Regions from separate parts of the Homo sapiens genome. Here all the other regions are reported to be linked to region 4. Evidence: microRNA targets listed by miRTarBase, many of them from high-throughput screens and not tested one by one. Region 4 holds a microRNA gene; each other region holds the end of a gene's coding sequence.

What was found. Region 4 holds the annotated microRNA hsa-miR-186-5p (CAAAGAAUUCUCCUUUUGGGCU, at 4,350-4,371, shown strand). A microRNA usually pairs through its seed, bases 2 to 8, with sites in the 3' UTR of a target mRNA and lowers its output. Matches are read on the target gene's strand: a 7mer-m8 pairs with bases 2 to 8, a 7mer-A1 pairs with bases 2 to 7 and ends in A, and an 8mer does both.
Region 1: the mRNA of SAT1 is a reported target of hsa-miR-186-5p. Seed matches in the 3' UTR shown: 7mer-m8 at 4,928-4,934.
Region 2: the mRNA of CLDN23 is a reported target of hsa-miR-186-5p. The part of its 3' UTR that is shown has no 7-base or 8-base seed match.
Region 3: miRTarBase lists ZNF324B as a target of hsa-miR-186-5p. The part of its 3' UTR that is shown has no 7-base or 8-base seed match.
Region 5: miRTarBase lists MED15 as a target of hsa-miR-186-5p. The part of its 3' UTR that is shown has no 7-base or 8-base seed match.

Annotation. Positions count from the first base shown.
Region 1 is chrX:23,784,773-23,791,112 of GRCh38, reverse strand. It overlaps SAT1 (spermidine/spermine N1-acetyltransferase 1), which reads right to left. Exons shown (of 6, transcript NM_002970.4): 4 at 5,684-5,785; 5 at 5,553-5,593; 6 at 4,903-5,427. The coding sequence ends at 5,257. Among named protein-coding and RNA genes, the nearest start is that of SAT1, 4.8 kb to the right of the region's middle.
Region 2 is chr8:8,702,280-8,708,575 of GRCh38, reverse strand. CLDN23 (claudin 23) reads right to left here. Exons shown (of 1, transcript NM_194284.3): 1 at 4,480-6,296. The coding sequence starts at 6,177. The coding sequence ends at 5,299. Among named protein-coding and RNA genes, the nearest start is that of CLDN23, 3.5 kb to the right of the region's middle. RefSeq lists an enhancer at 5,846-6,296 and a silencer at 6,287-6,296.
Region 3 is chr19:58,455,733-58,462,072 of GRCh38, reverse strand. It overlaps ZNF324B (zinc finger protein 324B), which reads right to left. Exons shown (of 4, transcript NM_207395.3): 4 at 4,240-6,340. The coding sequence ends at 5,494. Among named protein-coding and RNA genes, the nearest start is that of ZNF324B, 7.3 kb to the right of the region's middle.
Region 4 is chr1:71,065,712-71,072,051 of GRCh38, reverse strand. MIR186 (microRNA 186) reads left to right here and starts at 4,336; the gene lies at 4,336-4,421. ZRANB2 (zinc finger RANBP2-type containing 2) reads left to right here. Exons shown (of 10, transcript NM_203350.3): 7 at 1,056-1,225; 8 at 2,690-2,776; 9 at 5,118-5,276. It overlaps ZRANB2-AS1 (ZRANB2 antisense RNA 1), which reads right to left. Exons shown (of 3, transcript NR_038420.1): 3 at 4,868-5,286. RefSeq lists a silencer at 3,500-3,549.
Region 5 is chr22:20,586,063-20,592,177 of GRCh38, forward strand. MED15 (mediator complex subunit 15) reads left to right here. Exons shown (of 18, transcript NM_001003891.3): 18 at 506-1,557. The coding sequence ends at 642. LOC124905084 (a long non-coding RNA gene) reads right to left here and starts at 2,832. Exons shown (of 3, transcript XR_007068013.1): 1 at 2,745-2,832; 2 at 1,767-1,899; 3 at 1,526-1,684. It also overlaps the pseudogene CCDC74BP1.

The DNA of each region.
Region 1 (6,340 bases), not on the chromosome of region 4:
ACTTTGGGAGGCCGAGACGGGCGGATCACGAGGTCAGGAGATCAAGACCATCCTGGCTAACACGGTGAAACCTCGTCTCTACTAAAAATACAAAAAATTAGCCAGGTGTGGTGGTGGGCGCCTGTAGTCCCAGCTACTCGGGAGGCTGAGGCAGGAGAATGGCGTGAACCCGGGAGGCGGAGCTTGCAGTGAGCCAAGATCACGCCACTACACTCCAGCCTGGGGGACAGAGTGAGACTCCATCTCAAAAAAAAAAAAAAAAGAAATCTCTCTCAGGATGGGGCATTAGTATTTTTACAGTGCTTTCTAGGCCATTCTAATGTGTAGCCCATACTGAGAATCACTGCTTTTGATTATCCAGAAAATGCTTATACTGATTATTCTTTGCAGTAGAATCACACAGAAACACCATATTCAATCATTCTTATAGAAACTGTGAGGTCCTGTGAGACTATGGCAGGAAGCCCCAGGGGTTTGAGAAATTGGTTTGGAGCTTGATTCCCAGGTCTAGTTGTGTGGCCTTGGGCAACTTAACTTCTCTTAGGTTTAGTTTCTCATTGTAAAAAGAAACTTATAATTGTACCAATCTCATACAGTCGTTGTGAGAATTAGATGAGATAATAATGTATACAAAGTGCTAAACTGAAAGCCTGGTTCCTGATTAGTGCTTAATAAATGTTAGCTCTTATCACTAGTTTTTTTCTTTTTCTTTTTTTTTTTTTTTTTTGAGACGTAATCTTGCCCTGTCGCTCAGGCTGGAATGCAGTGGCGTGATCGCGGCTCACTGCAACCTCCACCTCCCGGGTTCACGTGAGCCGAGATCGCGCCACTGCACTCCAGCCTGAGCAACAAAAGCGAAACTCTGTCTCAAAACAAACAAACAAACAAACAAACATGGCACCAGTCAAGGAAATAGAATTCTAGGAGCAGACATGGTCACCTGCAGACTCAGAGGAAGGCCATGGCTGTCACAGTCAGTGAGGAAGTTGCTTCACTCCTAGCAGGAGAAGGTGGCTGGTTTCCCAGGGCCTGGCAGTTCCATCAGTTGCTGGTGAGCAGCCACCTGCTTCAGTGAACCGTGATGAGCATCATCCATTCTAGGCCCTGCTGGGTCCCCAGTGGAAAGGAGACTCACAGGAAGGGGTAGAGTGGGTCGAAGGCATTAATAAATCATTAGGTTTCTTCTGAATTGCTTCTTCAGCATTTCTGTAAAAAAGACTCTACTTTCTTTCCCTAGAAAGACTACTGTGTGGAATCTAAGCGGTTGATGATCTTGGACTCTGGTTTTCCATGTTTATCATTGTTTGTTGTTTCTTTTCAGATAATTTCCCCGTAACATGTTTTCTTACTTGCCTGGTGACTTCAAACTTTATAGATTTGCTTTATAGTTCAGTTTTTAAAGAGGTCTCTTTGTAATTGAGTTGAGCTAGTAGTGGGCTAATGCTGTGGTGTTTCAGCTTCTTCTTTTTTTTTTTTTTTTTGAGACAGAGTCTCACACTGTTGCCCAGGCTGGAGTGCAATGGTGCAATCTCTGCTAACTGCAACCTCCACCTCCTGGGTTCAAGTGATTCTCCTGCCTCAGCCTCCTGAGTAGCTGGGATTACAGGGGCCTGCCACCACCCCGGGCTAATTTTTTGTATTTTTAGTAGAGACAGGGTTTCACTATATTGGCCATGCTGGTCTCGAACTCCTGACCTCGTGATCTGCCCGCCTTGGCCTCCCAAAGTGTTGGGATTACAGGCGTGAGCCACTGCTCCCAGTTGGCGTTTCAGCTTCTAAATTTTACAGCTGGCTGGGCGCAGGCTCATGCCTGTAATCCCAGCTCTTTGGGAGGCTGAGGGGGGAGGATCATTTGAGGCCAGGAGTTGGAGACCAGCCTGGGTGATGTAGCAAGACCTCATCTCTACAAAAAATTAAAAAAAAAAAAAAGAAAAGCTGGGCGTGGTGGTGCGTTCCTGTGGTCTAGCTACTTGGGATGCTGAGGTGGGAGGATTGCTGGAGCCCAGAAGGTCGAGGTTGCAGTAAATTGTGATTGCACCACTGCACTCCAGCCTGGGCAATGGAGTGAGAACCTGTCTCAAGAAAAAAAAAAAAAAGAAAACAACTAAAAACAAATAAAAATTAAAATAAATAAAATTTACACTTAAGGGGCTTCTTTAAAGTGGATACAAAACTTCATAAAAGCCTTCATCTTCACAACACTGGGCCTTTAAGGCTAAGTTCTAAGAAAGATGAGGAAACAAAGAGTTATATTGTAACTTGGTGGTTAATTTAATTTATTCCTATATTTAACCACAGTCAGCATGTAGTTGTTTTCCTCTAAGAGGCTCACTTTCCAAAACACAATTTGCAAAATATCTTACTTCTCCACAAGGCTCTTTGTGTTTAGTTACCCTTTCATTTTTGCCAGAGTTTCTCTTATGTAGTTACTTGCCTGCCTAATAGGGCCCCTGGTTGATCATTGACTCTGTAAGCCCATTTTCATGGCATGCTCTCTGAGCCACCAATAAATCCCAAAGCCCTCCTGTATTAAATATAATACAGGGCTACATTTTTATATGTGGCTGCCTTCTAATCTAGGAAGCCATAACAGACACTGATACAAAGGCTTGCAGGACAACATTACCTTTGACTGAGGAGCTCAGTACTGATTTGCTGGAGAACTCAGAGAGATACAGAGCATTGTTTTCAGGTATCTGACTTCTTTTGGAAAACATTTATCTTGGACATTAGTCTACAGTGGTTCTTATCAACTACTGTTTTCATTATTGTGGAAATTAGTCGGTTTAGGAATTTGGGCCAATGTCATGAATAATGAAAGGAGTTCACATATCTAGGGGGAAATGGTCTTTTTCTTTTTCATTTCAGTCCTTAAGAAAGCACTTGTTTACTTCTTTACCCCCTGGCAGTTTTAAGGGCTATTGTTTCTCTGCTCTAAAAATCCGTTGTATTAACACAGGACTACAAATTCACCCTCCAAATGAGATGTTAATTTATCTGATTTATGCTTGTGTCCAACTGGAGCTTTTCTGTTTGCAAATTTCCTGTAAAAAAATGTGTACTTTTTCAGTACACATAGGAGACCCTAATTTCAGTGATCCGCTTTACCTTCAAAATTATCTTGGTCAGGTGCCATGGCTCACACCTGTAATCCCAACACTTTGGGAGGCCAAGGCAGGAGGACCTGAGACCAGCCTGGGCAACTTAGCAAGACCCTGTCTCTACTAAAAATAAAAAAAATTAGCTGGGCATGGTGGCATGCAGCTGTAGTCCCAGTTACTTTTGGGAGGCTGAGGTGGGAAAATTGCTTGAACCCGGGAGGATAAGGCTGCAGTGAGCTGTGATCACACCACTGCACTGCAGCCTGGGCGAAAGAGTAAGACCTTGGCTCTATTAAAAAAAAAAAAAGTCTTGGCTGGGCACGGTGGCTCACGCCTGTAATCCCAGCACTTTGGGAGGCCGAGGCAGGCGGATCACGAGGTCAGGAGATCAAGACCATCCTGGCTAACACGGTGAAACCCCGTCTCCTCTAAAAAAAAAAAAAAAAAAAAAAAAATTAGCCAGGCGTGGTGGCGGGTGCCTGTAGTCCCAGCTACTCGGGAGGCTGAGGCAGGGGAATGGCGTGAACCCGGGAGGCGGAGCTTGCAGTGAGCCAAGATCGTGCCACCGCACTCCAGCCTGGGTGACAGAGCAAGACTCTTCCTCAAAAAAAAAAAAAAAAAAAAAGTCTTGTGTGGCATGAGGTTTTGGGGGACAAGATGTTCTTTCTTGATTTTCAGTGTTTCATAATCCCACCTCCACATTTTACTTGTGTAATGATGAGTTTATTCATTGAATGAGACCTTGGCTCTGTTAAAAAAAAAAATCTTATGTGGCATGAGGTTTTTAGGGACAAGATGTTTTTTCTTGATTTTCAATGTTTCATAATCCCATCTCCACATTTTACTTGTGTAATGATGGGTTTATTCATTGTGGGCCTCAGTTTCTAACTTGGTTTTCAGCTCTTGAAAATTCCGTCAGGCCAGGCGCAGTGGCTCATGCCTGTAATCCCAGCACTTTGGGAGGCCGAGGCAGGCGGATTATGAGGTCAAGAGATCGAGACCATCCTGGCTAACACAGTGAAACCCCGTCTCTACTAAAAAATACAAAAAATTAGCCGGGCATGGTGGCGGGCGCCTGTAGTCCCAGCTATTCAGGAGGCTGAGGCAGGAGAATGGTGTGAACCCAGGAGGAGGAGCTTGCAGTGAGCCGAGATCGTGCCACTGCACTCCACACTGCCCAGGCTGGGTGACAAAGCGAGACTGTCTCAAAAAAAAAAAAAAAAAAATCCATCAGATGCAGTGTATAGTGTCATCAACATAAAAAGCCGTTTTGCCGGGTGCTGTGGCTGACCCTTGTCATCCCAGCACTTCGGTAGGCTGAGGTGGGTGGATCACTTGAGGTCAGGAGTTCAAGACCAGCGTGGCCAACATGGCAAAGCCCCGTCTTTACTAAAAATACAAAAATCAGCTGGGTACGGTGGCACATGCCTATAGTCCCAGCTATTCAGGAGGCTGAGGCATGAGAATTGCTTGAACCCGGGAGGCAGACGTTGCAGTGAGCTGAGATCGTACTACTGCGCTCCAGCCTGAGCAACAGAATGAGACTGTGTCTCAAAAAAAAAAAAAAGTCATGTTTTACATGTTGCTATGTATAAAACCTTGATAGCCAACTGGTAAACTGGCTTCTATCCAGACTTTGTTAATACTAACATAACACATGACCATAAAAACTTTAAATTGGGTTAAAAACTATTTTGAGCAATTCTGTTCATCCAATGATGTTTGCGGGTCATTTTTGTCTTCAACAGCAAGAAAGATGTGTAAGAAATAAAGAACTAGTAAAAATGCTTACACCAAACAATTAAATCAAAGAGTAGTTTATTAAAAAAGAATCAAACAGAAACTCTAAGTACCAGTGTGTACATTGTACACATTTAAATGACTCACGAGAATGAAGTTTTTTTCAAATATATTAAGATCACACCACCTTGTTGTTTATCGAAAGATATTCAAGGAGAAAGATCTGACTCTCCAAACTGCATCTGAGATTGCCACTTTAAACAGACCTCATTTCAAACATGCAACAACGCCACTGGTAATAAAGCTTTGGAATGGGTGCTCATTCTATTATTTCACTACAAACAGCATAGAAAGCAAGAGAAGTTGGGAATTTATTCTAAAATAGAATGGAGGTTGTCATCTACAGCAGCACTCCTCACTCCTCTGTTGCCATTTTTAGCAAGTACTCCTTGTCGATCTTGAACAGTCTCCAACCCTCTTCACTGGACAGATCAGAAGCACCTCTTCTTTTATAGAAGTTGATGGATGGTTCATTCCATTCTGCTACCAAGAAGTGCATGCTGCTGCAGCGACACCTCATTGCAACCTATTATGAGAGAGTAAAACACACACTCAGTGACATTTCAGCCTGCTCTCAAGACCCAATTTTTATTCCATCATTAAAATAATCCAGTAAACTTACAAATTTGGAAACCAAAAACTAAGACATACCTGGCTTAGATTCTTCAGAATTTCTGATCCTATGCCAAAGCCTAAAAAGAAAGAGTACAATTTAAAAAGTCATTGTAAGCATTTATAACTCTGAACTCTCTTCAGACCCTCTGCTCCGAACTCAATCGTACCTCTATAATCACTCATCACGAAGAAGTCCTCAAGATACAATAACTTGCCAATCCACGGGTCATAGGTAAAATAGTACATGGCAAAACCAACAATGCTGTGTCCTGTAATAAGAGCATCACATGAGATGTGGAGAAGGAAAACATTCCATAAAAGTTGCAGCTGCAGAATCAGAGGCCTATCATAGGTTTTAAAAAACACACATGCATGTATTACAGAAACAAGTAGCCATGGCTGTCTCATGATTTTTATGTGAGTGCAGTCCAGGCCACTGCTGGATGATCTCACTGTTCTGAGAACATGTATTTGCAAAAAGCACACATCAGAACTCACTGAAGTCAGGCTACAACTGTGGACTGGCCACTCTGCAGTCTGCTGGAGCTCACACTCAGGAAGCGAGAACGCTTTCATTACTTGCCAGAGCAAAACTGCTATGGTTTTAAACTCAACACACACATTATTCACATCCTATTGGTATACTGGTATGTTGACTTGGGAATACGTCAGGTTTACACGGCAGTTCAGAATAGTAAATATTTGGAAGTTTACAAACTCTTGCTTCCTTAAAGGTCAGAACATCAGGCCAAAGTACAACGTTTAATTTCAGAACTTGCCTTCCAATTTACGCATTTTCAATTTGCTCTCCCCATTTGTTGAGT
Region 2 (6,296 bases), not on the chromosome of region 4:
AGGTATCATCAAAGTTCTAGAAAAATTGCAGTGATCTTGTCTAGCCTCCCTCAGCCCCGTGGTGAGAGCAGCTCTTTGGGAGCCACTGTGAATAGCAAACATGGTGGTGGGGGAGAAGTGTCAGTGGCCTCAGGCTCCATGTCACTTTCTCTATGCAAAACAATGGAGAGTCATTTGGTACCTGTGAAAGGCATCTCCTGGCTTCCCAGGCTCTCAACCCAGCTTATTGGTCACATTGCTTTACAAGAGGGGCTGCTGGCTCACCTTGTCAGCGCCTTGGTATAACTTGGGCCACCAGTAGGACAAGAGTTAAATGGGTTCAATCAAGTCTTAAGCCATTCTCTCCATGTGCCACTGAAGAATCAAGTCCCCTTGTCAGCACTGTCCCCCCTGCTAAGCTCTGTCTATATTTTCCTTGATTTGAACAAATGAAACCTCATTTTCATGTGTTCAGTCCTGCTTAGTGGAGGACTATTCACACATGAAGTTGCTTATTTTTTGCTTACATGGTGGCTCACGCCTGTAATCCCAGCATTTTGGGAGGCTGAGGCAGGTGGATCTCCTGAGCTCAGGAGTTCGAGACCAGTCTGGGCAACATGGAGAAACACACTCTCTACAAAAAATGCAAAAAATTAGCCAGGCGTGGTGGTGTGTGCTTGTGGTCCCAGCTACTTGGGAGGCTGAGGTGGGAGAATCGCTTGAACCTGGGAGATTAAAGCTGCAGTGAGCCAAGATCATGCCACTACACTCCAGCCTGGGTGACAGAGGGAGACCCTGTCAAAAAAAAAAAAAAAAAAAAAAAGAAATTGCTTATTTTTGATTCTGGAAATGTTACCCCCCCAAAATCAGGGTTTGTTGGTCCGATGAATAACAAACCACGCTCCTTGAGAACGCAGGTGTGTGATCAATAGGAGTTTTATTACTTGGCACAAGGAAGAGGGGCACTGGGATTATTCTCCAAAGCAGTGTCTCCCAGAGGGAATGTGACAGGAGGGTTTTAAGGGGTAATGGAGACAGGAGGGACTGCGTCGCATGCCGAGGAGGGGTCCCAGTGGCACCAATGCAGTGAGTCCTCATGCCAGCACATAGGTCGCATGTGGTTGCTGCTGAAGCTGCTCTTCCCCTGGGGTGGAGACTATAGAATGGCCATGAGGAAAGTTCACCGAATTCATCTAAAAGTTGTTGGGGCCTGTCAGGAGCTGCTTTAACCTGCTGGGTGACCACGCAGGGTCTAGGAAGAAACAGACTGCAGGGCACGAGGCTGCAAAACAGGCTGATTGCTCAAGTTGATTAAATTCCTAGAATCCCCAGAGACCCTCCCTGTCTGCTTATGGAAATATTCTAGAAGACAGGGTGAATTTGTTCCAGATGGTATTCCCTCTGAAAGAATCTGTTAGCCTGGCAAAGAGTAGATGACAAGGTTGACTCAGGGTTACTCCGTTGTACCACCAGCTGCTTCTTGGCCTTACCACCCGATTCTAGAAAGAGAAGCAAAACTAGCTGGTAGTAAGACTGAGACGCCCACCTGTTTTCACATTTTCTCTAGTGGAAACTTGAAGTTGTTCCTTCTGCCTAAAAGGCTCCTCTCTCTCTTCTTTCAGTTCTCTGCCCAAGTACCTCCTTCTTCTTGACCACTTTTCCTAAAATATCACCTTTGGCCAGGTGTGGGAGCTTTCACCTCTAATTCCAGCACTTTGGGAGGCCAAGGTGAGAGGATCACTTGAGCTCAGGAGTTCGAGACCAGCCTGGGTGACATAGTGAGATTCTGTCTGTTTAAAAAAAAAAAAAATTAGCTGGGTGATGTGATGCATATCTGTGGTCCCAGCTACTTGGAAGGCTGAGGCTGGAGGATCCACTGAGGTTGGGAGGTTGAGGCTGCAGTGAGCCCTGATCATGTCACTGCACTTTAGCCTGGGTGACAGAGTGAGACCCTGTCTCCCAAAAACAAAACAAAAACAAAAAACACCTTTCTTCCTCCATCCCTTGATTTCTGGCTTAATCTTTTTCATTTTATTTGTACATGATCACAGGAGATTATTTAAGTTCCACACAGAATGGGCCTGGATGGTATTGTTTTTCATGGTGCCCACAAATGTGCTGGCAAAATGTCAGACGCTCAAAAACATACTGGGTGAACGATCTACACAATGAAGGGAAGGATGGTTGCCAAAGCACCCTGACAGCACCTCCCGCAGCCTCCACGGTGGAGAACCAGCTGTGTGCTCAAAGCCACACCCCTCCTTGGTGAGGGCGTGTGTCCAGATAAGAGCCAGATTGGCGAACGGGTAGAGCAGGGATGTGTTAAAGCAGTTTCTGCCTTACCTTCACAGAACTCACCGTCCTCCTGGCATCACTTGAGTAATCTAGAAAAGACTTCATCCATTCAATGGGGACTTATACTTCCTTTGGGGATTGGGAGGATTAAACATGAGTCTGGTAGGTCAGAGGGCTTGATACAAGACAGAAGTGCTTTGAGTGTGTTCTCTGTGGTGCAGTTGCTGGGCTGGTCAGTGGTAAGTTTAGGAAAAGTTTAGGATAAATTCTTGCCCACAGCAGCAACTCCTGAGACTTGCTGTGGCAGAGAATGACCCGCAGGGCAAACGTGGATCCCAGACTGATGCAGGACTCTCTTTCCATGCTCTCCTGAACCTTTTTTTTTTTTTTTTCTTTGAGACAGAGTCTCGCTCTGTCACCCAGGCTGGAGTGCAGTGGCACCATCTCGGTTCACTGCAAGCTCCGCCTCCCGGGTTCACGCCATTCTCCTGCCTCAGCCTCCCGAGTAGCTGGGACTACAGGCGCACGCCACCATGCCCGGCTAATTTTTTGTATTTTTAGTAGAGACGGGGTTTCACCATGTTAGCCAGGATGGTCTCGATTTCCTGACCTCGTGATGGGCCCACCTCGGCCTCCCAAAGTGCTGGGGTTACAGGCATGAGCCATCATGCCCGTTTTTTTTTTTTTTTTTTTTTTTTTTTTTTTTTAATTTAAGAGACAGTCTCGCTCTGTTGCCCAGGCTGGAATGCAGTGATGTGCTTTTAGTTCACTACTGCCTTGAACTCCTGGGCTCAAGTGATCCTGCTGCCTCAGCCTCCTAAGTAGCTAGGACTCTAGACATGTTGCCACTATGCCTGACTAACTTTTAAAAATTTTTTTGTAGACATGGGGTCTAGCTATGTTGCCCAGGCTGGTCTCGAACTCCTGGCCTCAAAGCATTCCTTCCACTTGGCCTCCCAAAGCACTGGGATTACAGGCTGTCTTGAATATTTCTATAGCAAAAAGGAGTTTGTATTTTTAAAGGAGGAGTTTTGGCTTCGTTCTCTTGATAGGGGAAAAGTAGAGTTTTAACTCCCAGCAACCGAATCCTAATCCTCAGGCAGGAAATGTTTTGCATATAAGGCAGTGGAGAATCATTGGGATGGGGAGAAAAGCAAAACACACAAAAGTTTTGTGTGTTTTTACCAAAGCTTCCCTGGAGATAGAATTATGATGCAGCCCAGACTCACCATTTGCCAGGAGCCCAGTACCTGTACGGTGTCTGCTAGGTGCTGACTTCTCAGGTCCCTAATTGCTGCCTTCGGAGGTGTTAGTGGAAAAGAGCCCTGTTGCACTTTCTCCCTTTTGGCTCTGTACCCTCGAGCAAGTCCCCAAGCGCATCTCGGTAGCAGGCACTCAAAGGTCTGAATATGAGCCACCAGTTGGGATTGAAATTTGAGTGAGACAGTCCCAGCGAAAGCCTTGCAACTCCAAGTGTGGTCCATGAGCCGGCAGCATTGGCATCTCCTGGAAGCCAGTTAGGAAATCTTTTCAGGGCCTCACTCCAGATCTACTGAATCAGAATCTGCATTTGAAAGAGATTCCAAAGTGATACCGCCTACACGTTAAAGCCTGGCTTCAGAAAGAGAGAAAGAAGTGATTCCAGTACCAAATGGCAAGGGAAGTGAATCTCTGTCATCCCTTCCACTCTAACAGGCAGCATGTGCTATTAAGTTAGCCTCACTATAGCTATTATCAGTGCTTGCTGAACTGAATGAATGTTCCTACCTCTGAACGGCAGGTTTTAAAGAAGAGATTCAGTTCGGTTAAAGGTACCCTTAAATCAACCACTTGGAATTGAAGCCAGCCCTGCTGGAGACCCAGTCCCCTTCATGGAACACATAGCTGCCTTCCTGTGATTCTAAACACCACTGCTACAAAGGAAAAGATTTCCAGTCTCACCTCAAGTGGAAACTGGTGCTTCTCGTTTTCTCAGCAATAGACTTGGCTTTGCACAGAAATGGCATGAACCTAAAACCAAAGCAATCAGGGACTTAAGTGGGGCCCGTTGGCTTTTTTTAGTAACCTTATGCTAAGAGGTGCAAAGATTTGAGTGCTAGATTTCAGACACAAGTGCCGAGGCAGCCAGGAAATTGTTAGTAATGAATGTTTAAACTCCCAAACGTTGTACTGAAGACAAAAGAGCTTTTGTGGCTATACTGAAACTATTGTTTTAAAATTTTATTTATAAATAAAAGATATATACATATGTGCTTTAATATGATTAACAGGTTCCATTTTGTACAAAATGTTAAACCTAGAGTCCTCTGCGTCCTGGATGAGGCGTCCAAAGGGTGGAATAGTACAGCATTAGGACCTTTGTTCTCCTCTTGGCTTCTGGAAGAGAAACTCTTGCATGCCCTCGACTTTCACCGCAAAAATAAGTGAGAAAAAAGATAAATCCCATTTATGCAATGATATGTAGCTATGAGTTAATCACGGTATTTCATTCCATGAAATCCATTAAGCTGCTGGCATTTGCATGGCTCTAAGTTTATTTTAAGAGGCTCATTCAAACATGGCCAGGAATATATTGGCCTCTTGAGAGTTTGCATGGCAAGGAGTTATACAGCAGGAAAAAGAAAAAAAACCCAATAATTATATTGATGCAAGATTCATCAGTATTTTAGAATATTGTCGTTTCAACATGTTAAATTGTTTCTGAGCACTGCTGATTTCAGCACTGTCCCTGGTCCACGTGACGCAAATGCCACCCTTTCCATATATTCTTCAGCAAAAATATATGAAAAGCCCGTCACTCCCTAAGAGGACCCTGATCCCTCTGGAGAGGAAAACTAAACTCTTTAAGAAGAAAACCAAACCCAACCTGAACTAATCGTCCAAGGAGTCCTGTTTGGTCCCACGAAAGGCAGATTTCCATCCACACCAGTGAGGGGCAAGTGTCCGGGTTCCAACTCGAAGCCAGGCGGGCCTGTGCGGGGGTGAGTCCTTTGCCACCCGGCGCCCCCCAGGCTCTACAAGCGTCTAGAGGTCGGAGTCGCAGGGCAGCGAGCTGTCGCAGGGGTGGGTGCTGCACGAGGGAGCGTCCTGGGACTCCCACCCCTCCCCGTCGAGGACGTCCACCGAGTTGGTGTAGGCCTTGGGCCGCGGCCGCGGCATGGGGAAGCCGACCTTGGGCTTGGGCTTGGGCTTGCGGTGCTGGGCAGGCGGCGGTCGGTGCTGGCCGTCGCTGTAGTACTTGATGGCGGGCGCCAGGTCGGGCTCGGGCCACTCCACTTGGATGGTGCTGACGCTGCTGCGGCGAGGCCCGGCGGAGGGTCCCTTGCGGCGGCGGCGACAACGCTCGTCGCACCAGGGCGCGAAGCTGAGCGCCAGCGAGAAGCCGCCCAGCAGCAGGAGGCAGCTGCCCAGGTAGCCCAGGACCAGGCTGTAGCTGACCTGCACCGTGACCGGGCTGGCCGGGGCGGGCAGCACGTCGCGGTCCCCCAAGAAGTGGTTGTACCAGGACACCGGGATGAGGCCGAGGAGGCCAGCGACGAAGAGCACGACGCCCGAGAGCCCTGCCAGCACGAAGTTGGGCTCGTCCTGCCAGCAGCGCACGCCCAGCGACGCCAGCAGAAGCCCCAGGACCGTGGCGGCCAGCGAGGTGACCATGAGTGCCCGCGCCACCAGCACGGGCTGGGCCTCGAAGTAGCCCCACTGGTCCGTCTGGCCGCACTCGCGCTCGCGGCTGCTCTGCTCGCGACACATGTCCCACAGGCCCTGGTACAACTCCACGTCCACTGGCTGGTTCAGGAAGCCCTTCACCAGCCGCCAGCCGGGCGCCAGGGTGCCGGTCAGGTTGAGCAGGAGCCCGCAGGGCGCCAACACCATGCCCAGCGTCATCACCACCGGCGTCCGCATCCCGGCCCGCCGCGCCGACGGCGCCCCTGCAGCCTGCCTTCCTTCTCCGCTGTCGCCTTCTCCGCCGTCGTCTTCTCCCTGCCGTGCCCCAGGCTCCGGGGACCCGAAGTCAGCGCGGA
Region 3 (6,340 bases), not on the chromosome of region 4:
AAACCCCGTCTCTACTAAAAATACAAAAAAATTAGCCAGGGGTGGTGGCGGGCGCCTGTAGTCCCAGCTACTCGGGAGGCTGAGGCAGGAGAATGGCGTGAACCCGGGAGGTGGACCTTGCAGTGAGCTGAGATCACGCCACTGCACTCCAGCCTGGGCAACAGAGCGAGACTCCATCTCAAAAAATAAAAATAAATAAATAAAATCAAGGATTCCACTTTAAAATGGAATCTTGAGGACCCCACAAGATGGAAATACCACAGGACAGGGCTGTGTTTCCACAGTGCACCTCACTGCATGGACATTCCCTGATGCTGGTGGGACACCCAGCACCAATTAGCCCACTCTGTGATCTGTGATCAGCCCATCTCCCAAAGGATTCTTCCCCCTTGGTGATGAGTGTTTCTATAAGTCTCCAAGTGTTCAAACCATACTTTTCTTATTTAAACATGCAAAGGAATTAGTACACCCTGCAGTAATAACCACTCACTGAAAACAACTGCTATCAGCCAAAACTGCAGCCCTTGCCAGTAACTTGCCAGCCAGTGCACACCCAAAGATCATGTTCTTTCATAGAACAAAGTAACCCTTGGTACCCCCCAAGCCAAAAGGTCAGAGAACTCAGTGTAAAAGAGATCAGAGCTTTAGACCTAAGATAAACTGCCTGCTACACTTAGGATTCCATGAGGAAGACAGAAGACTCCATAAAAGGTGTATGTGACACTTTACTGTGTTCCTCAAAGGGTCTCAGAGATATTAGAAGACTCCTCTAGATTTCTTTATGTGGTATCAAAGATAGCTAAAGGAAGAAAAAGTAGAAGAAAATGGGAGAGCTCTAAGCCAATTTGGGGAGATTTTAAGTTTTTCAGAAGGCCAATAAAACTTTACATCATACTAACAAGAAAAGAAGCAAACAAAGGGACTAAACATATGTAAAAAGGGGTTTCAGTCAACAGAAAAAAAAAAAATTCCCAGAAACAGGCTCCAAATGAGAAAAAGCAGAAAGGTATTTTTTCTTAAAAAAAAAAAAAAAGCCTGAATATCAGCTTTTAATTAAGCTGACATCTGACCATAGAATTCATTGTATTTTATTTACTTACTTTTGTGACGGAGTCTCACTCTGTCGCCCAGGCTGGAGTTTGCTATAGTTTCATAGCTCACTGCAACCTCCGCCTCCCAGGTTCAAGTGATTCTCCTGCCTCAGCCTCCCAAGTAGCTGGGACTACAGGCACGCACCACCATGCCTGGCTAATTTTTGTATTTTTCAGTAGAGATGGGGTTTCGCCATGTTGGTCAGGCTGGTCTCGAACTCCCAACCTCAGGTGATCCGCCCACCTTGGCCTCCCAAAGTGCTGGAATTACAGGCATGAGCCACTGTGCCTGGCCTATAGAGCTCTTTTTAAAAAACCTTTCAAATATCTTATCAGAGTATAGCCTGCACAAACAGAAAGTAGGCCTCCCATCCAATTTGTCTGGTTTTAGAACAAACATATTAAGTTTCCTATTGTGCACACAAATATATTACTTTAGGAATTTCAAAAGATCTCCGTTTTGGCCACTGCATTTTAGGGTCATCTCGAGTGACCTGGGTCCATTTACCTAAGTTTTTGGAAATAGGATCTCCATAGGTTTCGAAGGGTGGGGGGGTTGCTCCTTAAGGGAAAGCTCAGTTTTCATGAGCAGTTTCAAATAATTGTAGAAATACCTTTTCAAAAGTGACCAAGGTTAGTACAGTGTATTTAGACGAAGTGTGTTGCTTTGTGAGCATCACTCCTCAATGAGTCACCAGTGAGTTGTGATTCACTCTTTTATGTGTCTTGGAATCTGTGATCACCTGTGTTGGCAGAGTGCTCAAGGTACCAGATGAACAACCTTTATGTGAATCTTCTGGCTGAGCTGAAAGCCCCTGAAGGTGTTCTTCTTGCAGAAGAAGTAGGGAGACCCTATGAGGCCACTATGCATCATGAACAAACATCCCGACACCTTCATAAATCTCTAGTCACCTAGAATTGGGTTTAGAGGGAGCAAGTGCCTCTTCACTCAGGGACAAGAGAACTGATATGGTTTGGATGTGTGTCTCCTCCAAATCTCATGTTGAAATGTGATCTCCAGTGTTGGACATGGGGCCTAGTGGGAGGTGTTGGATCATGAGGTATATTAGGCCATTCCTGCATTACTATAAAGAAATACCTGAGGCTGTGTAATTTATAAAGAAGAGAGGTTTAATTGGATCACTGTTCTGAGGGCTGTACGAGCATGGCTTCAGAATCTGCTTCTTGCTAGGTTCTCAAGAAGCTTACAATCATGGCAGAAGGTAAAGGGGGAGGAGGCATCTCACCTGGTGAGAGCAGGAGCAAGAGAGAAAGGAAGGAGGTGCCACAGACTTTTAAATAACCAAATCTTGTGAGAACTCACTACCTTGAGGACAGCACCAAGAGATTCAAGAGCGATCCACCCCCATGACCCAAACACCTCTCACCAGGCCCCATCTCCAACATTGAGGATTACATTTCAACATGAGATTTGGAGGGGACAAACATCCAAACTATAGTATGGGGGCAGATTCCTCATGAATAGCTTGCCACCATCCCCCTTGGTGAGAAGTGAGCTCTTGCTCTGAGTTCATGAAAGATTTGGTTGTTTAAAAGTGTGTGATGGGCTGGGTGCGGTGGCTGACACCTGTAATCCCAACACTTTGGGAAGCTGAGGCGGGTGGATCACTTGAGGCCAGGAATTTGAGACTAGCCTGGCCAACATGGCAAAACCCTGTCTCTGCTAAAAATATTATACAAAAATTAGCTGACATGGTGGTGCACACCTGTAATCCCAGCTACTCAGGAGGCTGAGGCAGGAGAATCACTTGAACCCAGGAGGCAGAGGTTGCAGTGAGCTGAGATCGTGCCATTGCACCCCAGCCTGGGCAACAAGAGCAAAACTCCATTTCAGAAAAAAAAAAAAAAAAGTGGGCCGGGCGCGGTGGCTCACGCCTATAATCCCACCACTCTGCTGTGAGGCCAAGGCGGGCGGATCACAAGGTCAGGAGATCGAGACCATCCTGGCTAACACGGTGAAACCCCGTCTCTACTAAAAATATTAAAAATTAGCTGGGCGTGGTGGCGGGCACCTGTAGTCCCAGCTACTCGGGAGGCTGAGGCAGGAGAATGGCGTGAACCCGGGAGGCGGAGGTTGCAATGAGCCGAGATCGTGCCACTGCACTCCAGCCTGGACAACAGAGCGAGACTCCTCAAAAAAAAAAAAAAAAATGTGTGACACTTCCCCCCCGCCTTGCTTCCTGTCTTGCCATGTGATATGCCAGCTCTTCCTTCATGTTCCATCATGATTGCAAGCTTCCTGAGGTCCCACCAGAAGCCATGCAGATGCTGGTGCCATGGCTGTACATCCTGCAGAACCATGAGCCAATTAATCCTCTTTTCTTTATAAATTACCCAGCCTTAGGTGTTCCTTTATAGTGACACAAAACAGACTAATAGAAGAACTCACCCTCATGAACCTTTCAGTTTGAAACAGAAATTGGTTACCATTGAAAAGACAAGACTGAGTTACAAGCAATAGGAAACAGCTGCAACTTTAAAATCATGGTATGTAGGCAGGCGCAGTGGCTCACGCCTGTAATCTCACCACTTTGGGAGGCCAAGATGGGCCGATCACTTGAGGTCAGGAGTTTGAGACCAGCCCAGCCAACATGGTGAAACCCCGTCTCTACTAAAAATACAAAAATTAGCCAGGTATGGTGGTGCAAGCCTGTAATCCCAGCTACTGGAGGGGCTGAGGCAGGAGAATGGCTTGAACCCAAGAGGCAGAGCCGAGGTTGCTCCACTGCACTCCAGCCTGGGCGACAGACTGAGACGCTTCATGAAAAACAAACGCAGTGGCTCACGCCTGTAATCCCAGCACTCTGGGAGGCCAAGATGGGCAGATCACCTGAGGTTGGGAGTTCGAGACCAGCCTGACCAACATGGAGAAACCCTGTCTCTACTAAAAATACAAAATTAGCCGGGCATGGTGGTGGGCGCCTGTAATCCCAGCTACTCAGAAGACTGAGGCAGGAGAATCACTTGAACCTGGGAGACGGAGGTTGCGGTGAGCCGAGATTGTGCCATTGCACTCCAGCCTGGGCAAGAAGAGTTGCCTTGAGACTCTGTCTCAAAAACAAACAAACAACTGAATCATACCCTGGAATAGAGACAGGAGGCTGTGCTGTGGAGGTCCACACGGCTGTAAAGGAAACTACATCTATTTGAAGTTGCAAATACTAGTCTTTTTTTTTCTCCATTGAAAAGACCATTAATTTCTTGGAGGTGAGGTCTCAGGTAAGGATGGGGCCTAGTAGGCTTAAGGCCACAGGAAGCAAATGACCCCCAGTCTACCCTTTTGTCTCTGCCATGCAGGCCCATCACACTGGGTTGGGGAGGTCCTCAGGAGGCTGTCACACATGGCCTTAGGTAATGGCAAGTCCTTCCTATTCAGCTCTCTGTCCAGCCTCCAATTGAGGAGGCATAACAAGGGAAAGGTGAGATGGAGGGGGTGGGGGTGGGGGCGGGGATCGGCCACCAAATCCAGCAAAAATGAGCAGCTCCACCTTATCTGCTCCAAAGCTATCACTGTCTCCACAGGTGTAAAGGCTCCTCCTCACATCGACTTTTGTAAATGAGTGAGCGACAGGCCTTGGCCAAGCTGAGACTTGGACGAAAACCTGAACGAGTGCCACTGGAAAGCCATCATCCTAGGTTTGTCCTTCCAATGCTGAGAACCATGGGCATTCCTCTCCTGAGTCAGCTGTGTGACCCCAGGCCAGGCCCTCACACCTGGCTGACCAGAGCACAGCCCAGGAGCTGGCAGTGAGCACACATTGACTCTCATTAGGATCCCGTCTGTCAGCATCTGCAAACATGATGCTGAGTTGACCCAAAGCTTTTCTTTTTCCGAGGAGGAGGCTGACACTCACAGGCCACACCCTGATCCCCAGTCCCCTGTAGTCTCCTGTTTGCTGAGATGGCCCCCAGGAAGCCTTGAATAGAGGCCTCAGGGGGAAAATGTCCTCAGCGTCCGTCTAGCGGCCAGTTTGTGTGCAGACATCATAAGTTTCTCTAGGTCATCCTACCCCATGTCCGCATCCCCCTCACCTCAGCATCCACTCTCATAACACATGAAGTAGCACCACCATGCAGCGCTGCCTTTGTCGGCGTCCTATGGCCCCAACTACAGCCTCAGCCCCACCAGAGTTCCAGCTGACATGTCCTCCCTCTGATGTTTCTGCAGTGTTACCTCTTTGAGGATGGAGGTGTGAGCTATGACTAAACTGGCAAATCCTGTCCCCACCTGCAAATGGAACCACAGCCAAAGGGTCTCCCTCGTCCCTGACTCTCAGGCACAGAGCTTTTCCCCATCGTGGATCTGAAGAGCACTCGGACCCTTTAGCTGTGGAAGGGATTCACAGAAGGCCAAGAAAGGGTTGGGCTGCGACCTGTGACCTCAGACCTTCGCTGGCTTCAGGACTGGGCTTGGCTTCCCTCCCCGGCGCACCTTCCGATGATGTCCCTGAAGGAAACCTGGCCCCGGGGTGCAGTCTGGTGCTGCGGCATTGGTCTTCTCTGTGGTGTGGATCCTCTGGTGGTGCAAGAGGGCAGGGCGCTCACGGAAGGCGCGGCCACACTGCGTGCACACGAAGGGCTTCTCGCCCGTGTGAATGCGCCGGTGGCTGAGCAGCACGGCGCCCTTGGCGAAACCCTTGCCACAGTCCACGCAGCGGAAGGGCCGCTCGCCCGTGTGCAGGAGCTGGTGCTGGGTGAGGTTGGAGCTGCGGCTAAAGGAGCGGCCGCACTGGGCGCAGGCGAAGGGCTTCTCGCCTGTGTGCACGCGCTGGTGCAAAAAGAGCGAGGAGCCCTGGCTGAAGGCAGCACCGCAGAGCGCGCATACGAAGGGCTTCTCGCCTGTGTGCGTACGCTCGTGCTGGATCAGGTGCGAGTTGCGGCAGAAGCGGCGGCCACACTGTGCGCAAGCATAAGGACGCCCACCCGCGTGGATCTTGCGGTGCTGGCTGAGGTTGGAGCCGTGGCTGAAGGCCTTGCCGCACTCGGAGCAGCGGAAGGACTTCTCGGCCGTGTGGATGCGCTGGTGCCGCACCAGCGAGGAGCTATGCCGGAAGGCCTTGCCGCACACGGGGCACGCGTAGGGCGTCTCGCCGCTGTGGATGCGCTGGTGCTGCGTCAAGTGCGACGTCTGGCTGAAGGCCTTGCCGCACTGGGTGCACTCGTAGGGCCGCTCCCCGGTGTGGGTGCGTAGGTGCTTGAGGAGGTCGGAGCTCTTCACGAACACTTTG
Region 4 (6,340 bases):
CAGCCTCAGACACTTGGTGAAAATATATTCTGTGTTTTCATTTGTTCTCACAAAGGTTTTGGATTTCCACTCTGCCAAGTACTATTTGTACTTGGAACACTACTGTTCTGGAGATACAGTGGTGACCGAAACAGAACCAGTTTTCTCTTACACAGTTCTAGAGGAGGAAATATATAAATAGGTAATTTTGATAGCAGTAACGTTATGAAGACACATGATGTGATAACAGTTTAAAAGCAACTTTGGTTTTGCCGATGGATAATGTCTAAGGAGGTGAAGTTTGAGCTGAAACTTGAATGATAGGAAGGAGCCAGCAATAAGAGCCGAGGTGAGAGCACATTTAGGCAGAGAACAGCAAATACGGGTTCCCTAAATAGGAGATAAGCCAGCAGCCTTCAAAAATACCATACATAGGCCAGTATAGTTAGAGCAGAGGGGAGAATGAGATGAGGGGGACAGCACACATTTCAGGTCTGGTGATACTTGTTCTGTCAGGCCAGAGTGTAAGTTTTATGCCATGTTAAGGGTACCTTAGAGCCTGATCATAAGAGGTCTTGGAATGCAACTAAAGAAATAATAAGCCAGTTTTGAAGTTTTTAAGAAAAAAGTGAGATGTGTTTATCTGTCCTGTGTTTCAGAGTGATGACTGTCAGTATATTGAGATACTAGAGAGGCAGAATGGATCTTCAGATTTGAGGAGACCAGCTAAGAGGTTACTATAATATGCTAGAGAATAAGGAACAGAGTGTCTAAGACTAAAAATGGTGATTTCAAGGACTTTTAAGGAGGTGGACTTGAAAATTCTTGGGTGATGCATAAGTGTGACAGAAAAAGTGTGTATGGCCTCCAGGTTTATGTCTGTGCAATACCTGAGACAAAGTTGTCAAGTCTCTATTTGAGATGAGTTTAGTAGGTGAATTTTAGAATTCAGAATTAATTTGCTGAGATACCTGTGATATATGCATATGGAGGTGCTCAGTACACCTAACTGTTTTATCTTTCCTGGTAGGTAACACTAATATCTAAATGTCTAATTATAATTGAATTTTTGTTAGGATGAGGATGAAGATGACGCTGATCTCTCAAAATATAATCTTGATGCCAGTGAAGAAGAAGATAGTAATAAAAAGAAATCTAATAGACGAAGTCGCTCAAAGTCTCGATCTTCACATTCACGATCTTCATCACGCTCATCCTCCCCCTCAAGTTCAAGGTCTAGGTCCAGGTAAACGGGTACAGGTCAAGGGTAACACCAGTCAAAATGTCAGTATCTAACTTTTTTATTTATAAATTTTGTTTTTCTTGACGAAATAAACTTTCCTTTTTATTTTAAAAATTTAATTCAAATCAACTTTTAAAATAATTTTTCAGCTTAGTACCATACAGTTGTTGTCCAGTATTTTTAGAAAAGTAAAGTCTTAGCATGAAACTTCCTTAACCTATTTTAGCCTCATGCTTTTGACTAAAATAGACTTAAAAACTGAATTAAATTTTTATATACACTTATATTTAATTAATCTAAAGAGATAGCTTACATATAGAAATTAAGTAAAGGGGAGATCTGTATTTTCATTCAAGATGTTAAAGGCTAGCACAGAAATTTTCTAGGCATTAAATCATTGCTTATTACATAATGTTTTTAATAGTTTGCTTTGATATCAGTATTGTGAATAACGGAGCAAATTCAGCCATATTAGTTCTGTTGACTTCATGCTCATAATTTTGAGAAGTCCAGGCGTAAACTAAAACTCTTTTGGTGTACTTGAATATTGTTTGTTGATGTAAAATATGTAATCTCTGATTTTATAGTTAACAATAAAAATAAAATTTTAGGTGAGTGAAAGCAGTGATTTAAATTTAACAGTGTCCTCTTGAAAAACCTTAATCACAGTTAAGTGATGGCATGGGCAATGAATTTTAATCATATTTAGGAATAAAATACTAGATATTAGTGTATAACAATTAGATATATGTTAATTGAGCACTACAAAGCCTGAAAGCTTAACAAAGTGGGGCTATAACTAGTAATTTTTTGGTAAAAATATAGTGATCTTTTTCTACAGGGTATTATTATAAGGGACAAATTATAGTTGTAAATTAGATTAATGAATTTTGTGAGTTTTAAAATTTGTACGAACCATGTCTCCCTTGTGTCATATTTTCCAATAATATAATTACCTAACAATGACAGAATTATACATTTTCCCTTTAATTCTCTAAGCATTGAGTAAACAGAAAAATATAGGGATGAAATACACACATGCCAACATTCAAAACTTTGTACTAACTAGAAACAAAAATAGAAGGGGATTTATAAAGGAAAATGATGGAGACATTTTAGAGAAATTAAGTATAAATCGCAACATTCTGTTTTCTTGGATGTATTCTGGGTAGCTTCTAGTTACTTGTAAACAAAGTATTCATTGTTTTTGTAATAAAGTGATAATGTTTTGTTTTATAGTTGAGTGGCTTTAGGGTAATTTAATCACCTGGAAAGTGATATTTTTTTAATTACCTTTTGTTACTAAATCTTATCTAATTTAAAATACTATGTTTTGAAAGTATATATCTTGTATAGTTATCTTTTTATATGAAAATGAACTCTAATACATATCTTTCTTTCAGTGTTCATATCACAAAGCTCAATTAAATGGTCCTGGAAAAAAAAAATCGTTCCATGTTGTTCCAGGTCCCGTTCAAGAAGTTCTTCCAGTTCGCAGTCAAGATCTCGTTCCAGTTCCAGAGAACGTTCGAGATCTCGTGGGTCGAAATCAAGGTGAATGAGGTAGCATCTCTCTGTAAAGCAGAGAGAAAAATATTTAAAGGCTGCAGAAGGTGTTGCTGCTTTTTTTCCCCTTATTTTGCTTCTACTTGTCGATTTTATTTTAGCATTAGAAAACTAATGCACTTGCCTCAGCTTAATTTTCTCACCATGAAATGTTTCCATTGCCAGCAGTGTGCCAAGACATTCCCATGATTGAAATCAGGTGGCTATTTTGCAATATGCAGCGTTTATTATTTTGGCACTAAGATGTTATGAAGTAGGAAGATGAAGCCAAGTCTTATCGCCACATCTCTAGTATATTAAGATTATATATGGCCAGGCACAGTGATTCATGCCTATAATCCCAGCACTTTGGGAAGCTGAGGTGGGAGGATCACTTGAGGCCAGGAGTTCAAGGTTGTAGTGAACCTTGATCACAGCACTGTAATCCAGCCTGGGTGACAGAGGAGTGTCTCAAAAAAAAAAAAAATTAATAGTAGTTCAAATAAAATTACATATGTAAATAAAAAGAAAAATTTTCTTCATTATTAAAAGGAAGAAAAATAACCCTGCCTCAAAACAGGTCCTGTTTTGCACGGCAGTTGTTTCAATATTTTCAGAAACAAATTTGCCATTTATATCAGATAAAGTTACTAGAGTACTGTATATACATTTTCCTTTCTAATTTTACACACGCTATTATTTATAGAGCACAAAACACTCAAAACTAAATCAGGAAGTATAGTCGGTTAGTTGAGATAGGATGTGGTCTTAAGTAGTAAACAGTGTTCTAAAGTTTCAGGTTGCATGTAGTCACATCTGTAGAGGGAAACATAATTTGAAAGATGCTCTTGCAGGAAATTTTTCTTTGTTTAGTCAAAATATGCTCTCTTTGTTTTTAAGTTAATTTATTATGACCTAAAGGCATCTAAAAAATAAATAAGAAAATGAAATTCCATATTTGTGGAAATTCATATTGAAGTCTAACTGTGGCTGTTTTGGTAAAAGTATTTGCTGCTTTGAATCAAATTTAGCATTAAAGGGCTGCCACAGTATAATCATGTTAAGGAGAAAAGAATGTTGTGCACACTTGCATTATAAGCCAATAAGAAATAGATAACAAGGCCAGGCTCAGTGGCTCACGCCTGTAATCCCAATACCTTGGGAGGCCAAGGTGGGCGGGCTGCTTGAGCCCAGGAGTTCAAGACCAGCCTGGGCAATATAGTGAGACCTCGTCTACTAAAAATAAAAATTAAAACAACCAGCCAGGCATGGTGGTGTGTTCTTATAGGCTGAGGTGGAAGGATCACTGGAGCCCTGGAGATTAAGGGTGCAGTGAGCCATGCTTATGCTACTGCACCACAGCCTGGGGAACAGAGCAAGATCCTGTCTCAAAAAAAAAAAAAAAAATAGAAGTAGAGAGCAAATTATTTTTTATTGTTACCATTATTTAGTAACAATATTTAAGCGCTTTATAGGTAAAAATCCTTAAGTTCTGGTATTCCCTTTGGGAACCATTATAATTAAGGTTTACAGAACACCCATCATATTCTTCCCAAACATTTTTTCATTGCTTGTAACTTTCCAAAGAATTCTCCTTTTGGGCTTTCTGGTTTTATTTTAAGCCCAAAGGTGAATTTTTTGGGAAGTTTGAGCTAAATTCCTTCAACCAAAATATACAAGTGAAGAAAAAAAATTTGTATTTAAACATTTGCACATTTACTTCTACCTGAAGCATGTGAATGTCAACACTTCATATTTCATAAGTAGTGGGTTTTCATAAAAATAGTATTGTAAATATAAATCATCTTAAAGTTAGTTTTTATTTCTTCTTGAATATTTAGCAGTTAAGTACAGTTACTAGTCTTTTGTTGCTGTGCCATATACCTGGTTTTTCCATAACAGTTTAATGAGTTGAATAATTCCACATGGAATTATGTTTATTTTCCTCAGGAAGTGGTATATAAGATACATATTTTAATCCTCAAATGGAAGGATGTAGTTCCTAAACGTAAAGTCCTGTTAATGCAGTTATCTGCTGATTTTATAATACTATAATATTTGTGTATACTTTGAAAAGCCTTAAAAAAAGTTTAAATTCTATTTTGATATAGTAAGCAGGGTTTTAATTACACATGATAGAATTTTAAAGAGACAAAATTAAAATGTTTAAGTAGAATGTTTTCATGGTTGATCCAGAAGTCTTCTGTTGAATAAGCAGTAAGTATTCTTCCTTATAAAATTTTCATAGTTGTTATAAATCCTGTTTATTTTTGGAGCTATCTGATAACTAAATAATCTTCCTTATTTCTTCTTTTAATGAAATGTTTGATTTGTTTCTCAATCAATGAAGATCCAGCTCCAGGTCCCACAGGGGCTCTTCTTCCCCACGAAAAAGATCTTATTCAAGTTCATCATCTTCTCCTGAGAGGAACAGAAAGAGAAGTCGTTCTAGATCTTCTTCATCTGGTGATCGCAAAAAAAGACGAACAAGATCACGGTCACCCGAAAGGTTTGGGTTTCTGTAGAAATAAGAATGGGTGTTCTTAAGTGTGTTTAATAGATAAAGTAAACTTTCCTAGTCAAGGGTTAGATTTTTATTATCTCTTGTGTTCCGACTTTCTACTTTTCAACTTTGAACTTCAAAAAAACATTACTTTGCTTATCCTTTGTACTTTGATCAGGTTGTTTAGAATTGTAGATCAAACCATTCTTTGATCATTTTATTGTTTAAATTTTTAGTTCCATTTATAATTTTTATAGCCAACTCTCGGTTATTTCTGTCTTTTGAGATTGCAATTCAGAAGCTGTATGTCGAAGTAATTTATGAGTTGACTTTTATACTTAGGCTTCTTTAAATACTAATAGTCAAGAATTCTAGAGCATCTAATAAAAAATTAACTTTCAGATCATTGGGAATCTGTCCTCATTTAAATATGTGTAAATGCATTTCCACAGCAAATTGCTTCATGCCCTTTGTCTATAAGGAAATTATTCCTTGTAGCTAATACATTTTTCATTTTGCAGTCCAAATCTTTTTTGAGAAAGGCCTATATTAGGTTACTTTATCTGTACTGACACTTTTAATATTGGAAGAATGCAACTGTCATCTGTCAGCCTTTTCTGCAACAGGCTAATTACTCAGTTTCATTAATTTTCTCTTTGTTCCCAATTATATAGTCATTTTAATGGCTTTATTTGTAGTCTTTGCAAATTTTTCATATTTTATTAGCTTGTGAAAATAAAGATTATGTAAAGTCTATTAATTGCTGGGTTCAGTGGTAGGATTATCTCATGATTCCTACTTGTACAGAATGATTAGTTTTGCTTCTTCACATTTTGGAGTTTAGATGTTAAGATTTCACACAGTCTTGTTTCTCTGCATTTGTTTCTTTGTAAAAAAAATTACTCTGTTTTTGAGTGGAATTCATTCTGTTGCTTTCTTACCACTTCTGCAAATTTTTATCTTAGCCACATATAATCCCCCTAGTTTGTTGTCATCTAAACTTAATGAACATGTTCTCTATTCCATAAGCCAGGTGATTGGTGAAAACACTAAACAACCCTGAGCCCAGG
Region 5 (6,115 bases), not on the chromosome of region 4:
ACGTCAGCTGTCCAGGGTGGTTGTGTTCAGTGGGTGAGGGGTGAGTAAGCCCATGGCTCAGGGACAGTCCCCGCTCTTCCCAGAGGCCACTAGCTTCCCAGAGGCCACTACCTTGGCAGGGCTGCCAGGTTCCACTGGTAGCTTGGGCACACAGGGCCCAATCTGGGTGCTGTGGCTCCAGAGAGAACCACGGTGGCAGGGGGCAGTCTCTGAGCCCAGAGCTGGCACACAGCAGAGCTGGCACACAGCAGAGCTGGCACACAGTAGAGCCAGGCTGGGTCCCCAAGGTTGTTAGAGGCAGAGCCCTAGATCCTGTTCAGATTTGGTTCTCACTGACGATGAGGCTCTGGGAGGAGAGCCCAAAGGCCGGGCAGCGTGCAGGACACATCACCTCCTGGTGCTTCGGCCCGCGCCTGGGGCTACCCCTTCCCAGAGCACTGCCGGGTGTGCCAGGAGCGAGCGCAGCGCCGGCCGCCTTAGGTTCACGCCCACTGCTCTGTTGCAGACGCCAACCCCTTCCTCCAGTCGGTGCACCGCTGCATGACCTCCAGGCTGCTGCAGCTCCCGGACAAGCACTCGGTCACCGCCTTGCTCAACACCTGGGCCCAGAGCGTCCACCAGGCCTGCCTCTCAGCCGCCTAGCCAAGACTGCAGGGATGGCCCGCAGCCTCATCGGGGCCAAGGACACACGCCTCCTGTCAGACACTTCTAGGTGTTGGCTTCCTTAGAGAGCCTGGGGTTAGGTTAGCTTTCCTGCTTTTATCTTCTGCCTTGGGGACCTGCCAAACGAAATCCCACACCTGTACAGAACTGGGATAGGCGCAGTGGAGCGGGTTGCTTGGGGGGCGTTGGCCGACTTCTTAGAGAAGGCCCTCCATGTGACTTCCTCCCAGGAGCCAGATGCGATCCTCAGGCTGCTCTCACCGTGGCCTGTCCACGGTCCAGGTCCATCTCAGCAGCGTGAGGGTGCACTCAGGGTGTTGTTAGAGCGTCTCGTGTGTGCTAGACGCACCCCTACTCGTTCCTATAGAACACAGAGGACATAGGAAACCCTTAAAACACACATGGGATTCTCTGGTCACAGTTTTGGGTTCAGGCTATGCTGCTTTGGGCAGGTGGAGCACCCCCCGAGGAAGCCTGCAAGTCCAGGGCACAGGCTGCCTTTTGGAGGGAGGGCTGGCCCATAGGTGCTGCTGGCTCCCCGCCACCAGCTGGGCCTCAGCCCTCACGGCATTCCTGCTGAGCACCGTGGGGCACCCAGGGAGCAGGGGCGTCAGGGATCCTGCTGCCGGCACCCCTGTGCCGCTGGCATGAGGGCCGTGTCCCCACTGTGAAGGATGAAGAGCAAGGCCCTCAGGACCCGTGTCCTCAGAGCACCACACACTGAGCACCCAGAGACAGCGGGCCTGGCAGCGGGCCGGGCCATGCAGGGAGCGCCTCCCTATGTTGCCTGCCACTCTGGGCACCGGCCAGCACCCTCTGGTGAGAAGAGGTCCCCCCTTTTTATGTGCACTACCCCACCATCTGTGATTATAATAAATTTATTATTCCTGTGTTTGTCAGTTGTTCATCACTGTGTCCCCTTCTCCATGAATCTGGGCTCGCTGTCCTGTCAGGATGCTGTCAGCCTTGGGGCTGCCTGGGGCCTCTGCCTCCCTTCCAGGAGGGACTTGAGGTGCTGCAGCTGAAAGGCAGGGGCAGGGGTGTGGTGGGGCCTGCGGTGGCACCAGGCTGCCCAGGGCCATCCCCACCACCCAGGGCCTCACCTCTTGGGCCTGCAGAAGGTTGGTATTCCACAGCTGGTGGATGACCACTTACACTGCTGAAGTGTGGTGGGCTTTCGCAGGTGTGGGGACAGGATCATCGGGGAGTGCCATCATCTGCCTGTCCCTGTGCTGGCTGCCCACCCAACAGAAAGCCCTGGCGTTAGAGGCCTCTGCTTCCCTGTCTCTGAAAGTCATTACAGTAGCCAGAAATGACCTGCCCAGGTGGGTCTGAGCATCCAGGCAGCATACTTCCCCCAGGCAGTGCCCAGGCCAGTGTGGGGAACAGGGCCTGGCTCCCTTCTCCCACTGACCAGAGTGCTCTGGGTGCCAGATGGGGGTCTCGGACTGGGGTCTGTCCCTTCCTCCCCTCTGAAGGTGCCCTGAGGGTCAGATGTGCTTCAGTGGGTGACCAGCTAGCTGCCAGGCTGCCCTTAGTCAGGACCCTATACCCAGTGGGGCTTCTTGCTTCAGGGCTGGTCTCAGGGGACGTGCAGAGATGCAGGAGCCTGTCCTGCTGGTTGCACCGCTCAAAATGTGCACTCTGCAATGTCTCAGGGCAGCCCGGCAACTCGGGGAGTACCAGAGCCTGGTCCTGCTCTCCTAGTCCCCTCCAAAGGCAGGCTGTGGCCAGGGGCAGCAGGCACTGACCAGCTCCATTCTAATCAGGCCCAGGAACACAACTCACTTTTCTTGGTAAAAAGATTACTTTGTTTTCTTTTCTCTGAGAAAGTGGTTTAGGGGCTGTTGCTGCCCCCTCTTGTGGGCTCAGGTCAGCACAGGTAATCTGCAGGACTCCAGGGGAGGGGAGGAAGACAGCGCCCACCCAATGGACAGAGTGTGGACAGAGCGTGGCCATTGTCTGCTTTCATGAGCCCTGGAGACAGGATCCTAGAGCAAGGGACACAGCAGTTTGCTGACTGCAGTGTGGGAGCCTAGTAAATGTGGTCCTGGGGCCCTTAGGGTGCAGGCAAACCTTACTTGGACTGCCCTTGCACCCCAGGAACTTTGTCCAGCTTGCTGTTGTGAAGCAGTGGCTCCTCCTCAAGGTCTGCCTTCTGGGGTACCTTAGAGTACCCCAGTGCTTTAGAGTCTTGTTTCTTGAAGGAACCGGCTGGGGCCTGTCCTTTCCTTGAGAGTTGGCTGCAGGTCAGACCCGACAGGGCCAGTCACTGCAGGCACCAACAGCCGCTGCCCAAGTCTTTCAGGATCAGCTGTGTGTGCCCAAGAAGCCCCTGCCTCAGTTGCCTCCTCTGTAAAGGGAAGCCTGCCTTGGAGGGTTCTAGGAGGAATAAATGAGGTTCTGAGGATGAAGCCCATGGGTGGTGCCTGTGAACATTCTAGAACAGTCAATATAGTGGAAGCTGGCTCTGTTTTGGGTAAAATAAAACTGCATGCGAGGCCTGGGACTAAGCCTGCATGGGTTTCCTCTGCAAGGACAACGCCCATGGCACGCCTGGGCTCATCACAGGAACAATAGGGGCCAGGGTTGGGGCCAAGGAAGATGCCTGGTCTCGAGCCACTCCCCGCTCACTCTGCAGAAGATGCCATGAGCCCAGGGCTCCGTGGGCAGTGCCATCCCTCCTGTATCCTGTCTGCTTGTGGAGGGGGACGTGGGCCAAGCAGGGCCTCTGCCAGGCAGCCAGTGTACGTCCTTCCCCCTAGAAGGCCACCCAAGGAGGCCCCTTCTGACCGCTTGCTGTGCTGGCTTGGGGTGCCTGCCATGAGGCCTTGCTGCCCTGCGTTGACAGCCCCTGTGACTGGCCCCCAGTCCTGCCCACCCCACCCTAGGCCCCTCCTGGTGGTTTCAGCTTACAGGGCTCCCTTCAGCTGCCCGTTCACCCCCAAATCCTTGAGGTTGGCCCAGCAGAGGACTTTCAGCTCCCTGGTCAGCACCTCTAGTGACCACCCAGGCTGGGGTCCCTGTGGGGCACTTGCCCCTGTGAGCACATGGAGGACACCAGCCTGCTCACCTGACACCATTTAATTCGAGGTGGAGTTGACAGGCTGGAAGTTGCCACCCGCACACCTGCCTGAGGGAGAAGCCCTCCGTCTGCCTGCAGGCCTGTGTCCTCCCTGCTCTACCCACACTCCACTGAGGCAGCCCCAGACCCACCGCGCGCCCAAGGGAGCAGAGGCCCCGGAAAGGTTGTTTCCTGAGGGGCCATCCAGAAAGCGGGAGGGCTTGGGACCCATGGAGCAGCAGGTCCGGAGGGAGAGCATGGCCTCTTCCCGTGTCCTGTCAGGGTCCCCAGCACTGCAGGGCCACACTTTGCCCAGAACAGCTCACTGGAGTTGCCACCGCAGCTAGGGAAGGGCCTTCACTCAATCCCATTCTCTGTGTCTCCCTAGAAGGGAGAGCCCTGGACAATGCCCCAGCTGGGATGTTCCCAGGCTGGTCCCATTCACCAGTCAGATGTCCTCCTGATGTCAGCCCCGGCCCCAAAGGTAATAGAGTGAGCTCAAGAACTCAACCAGAATCCTGGGCTGGGTGGGGGCCACCATTGGGATGGGGAAGTGCCTTGGACAAGTGGCAGGGAAGCAGGACTCTGGTTACTCCCCCCACCCCCATCCCCACAGTTGTTGCTGAGATGGCAGGAAGGAATCCCTGGATGGGGTGTGCCCGGAGCCCTTCTCCCAGCGTATCAGGAATCAGAGCCACAAGGCTGGAGATCCTAGGCCCAGCCACAGCAGCAATCTGAGGCAAAGACCCAGCAGGGTAGGGGCTGTCCCAGAGTCCCCTCCCATTTCAGGAGCTCTGCTTGGAGGAGGGAAGGTCTGGGAAGCACCCTGTGCCCACCATCACCACTGCACTGACCACAGCCCTTGGGCTTCCTGAGAGCAGCACGTGCTGTGCTTGGCTGTATAACATCGTCCAGCCATGGCTAGGGGCAGCAGCATCTGTCCAGGTCCCTCAGAACCTGTCCTCACTGGGTTGGCATACAGAGGCCAGTGCAGCCAGGTGGGCAAGGACAGTCTGGAGGGGCTCCCCGGGGTGGCAGGAGCTTCCCATCAGGCACGAAAGGGCCCAAGTCTCACCTTTCTCCTGTGACTCATTCATTATGAGCTTGTAATGGGGATCTGAAATCAAGCGCATGCTCTTCTCATCACTTGTGAAGCCACAGCCATTCTAAGAGAAGCAGCTTGGGCTGTCCACTACCCCCTGCTGAACCCCGAGAGTCCTGGCTCGCCACTGGCTGACTGGGCCCTGCCCCACAGGTCCCGCTTTCCACCACACCTTTGCTGTGGGCATGTGAGGGCAGGAATGACCCTGCCTGTTCCCTAGGCAGAGCCCACCCAGCACATCAGCCTCATCCTCCCATCTGACTACAAGACGCCCATGGTGCCAGGCAGGACCTGGGCCCCAGGGGTACAGGGGTGAACTCTGGGAGCCCCTGGCCATGGATGAGCATGGTCAGTGTCATGATCCTGTGGGCATCAGGGACTGGGGAGAGGCTCAAGAAGACATGGGGAAGGGGGATCCTGACATAACAGATGCCTGGTGATGGAATACTTAGCACCTAGGTAAGGCAGCACCAGGGAGCGGGGAGGGAGATGAGGCTGCAGGCACTGGTGCCCTCGCTGGAGCCTCTGCTGAAGCAGGGAGGGAGGAGCGGAGCCACATCCTGGCGGGCCCTCTTTCTGCTCTGGTGGGCAGTGGGGGTGAGGAGCTGCTAAGGGTGCAGTTAGGAAGGCCCAGCCCGAGGACAGTGTGGGCACAGGCGAAGCCGGGGGCATGCCTGCTCCTGATCCGGCATGTTTAGTTGGAGAAAATTCACTCAGTTGTGCACCGGCACTGGGCATGTTTTCCTTCTACGAAGTTTTTAACAGATGTGTACCTGACCCTGCCTGGAGAGGGGAGGGCTGGCAGGGTCAGCGTTTGAAATGATGCTGCCCCCGGCGGGACAGGCAGACAAGGAGGGCACCGCCCCGGGCCTAGGCGGGTCTCCGTCCTGGGGCAGGGGAAGAGCTCAGCATGGCAGGACCTAGCGTGGGCTTGCTGCCCTGTGTCCTCCCTGAGCCCAGGCAGGTGCTGGAGTTCATGTGCTGCGTTTCTGCTCTGCGGGCCGCCGCCGTGTTCAGGCGCTTGGGGAGGCAGGGCAGGCCTAGGGCCCTGTGGCTGGGCTCACCCTTGTTCTCCCACTTCAGATGCTCGATCTTCTAGTGGAGCTTGGCCAGCAACTCCAAGGACTGCTGCTGTAGGAACTGCAGGCCCAGGTCCAAGTCCAGGATCTGCCTCTGCTGGTCGATCTGGACACCCACAGACCGGCGGCACTGCGGGGGGTGCGACGTAACCTGAGATCCCGGGGACCAGCTGGGAGGCTAGCTCGCACGGCTCATGTCGCCACCCC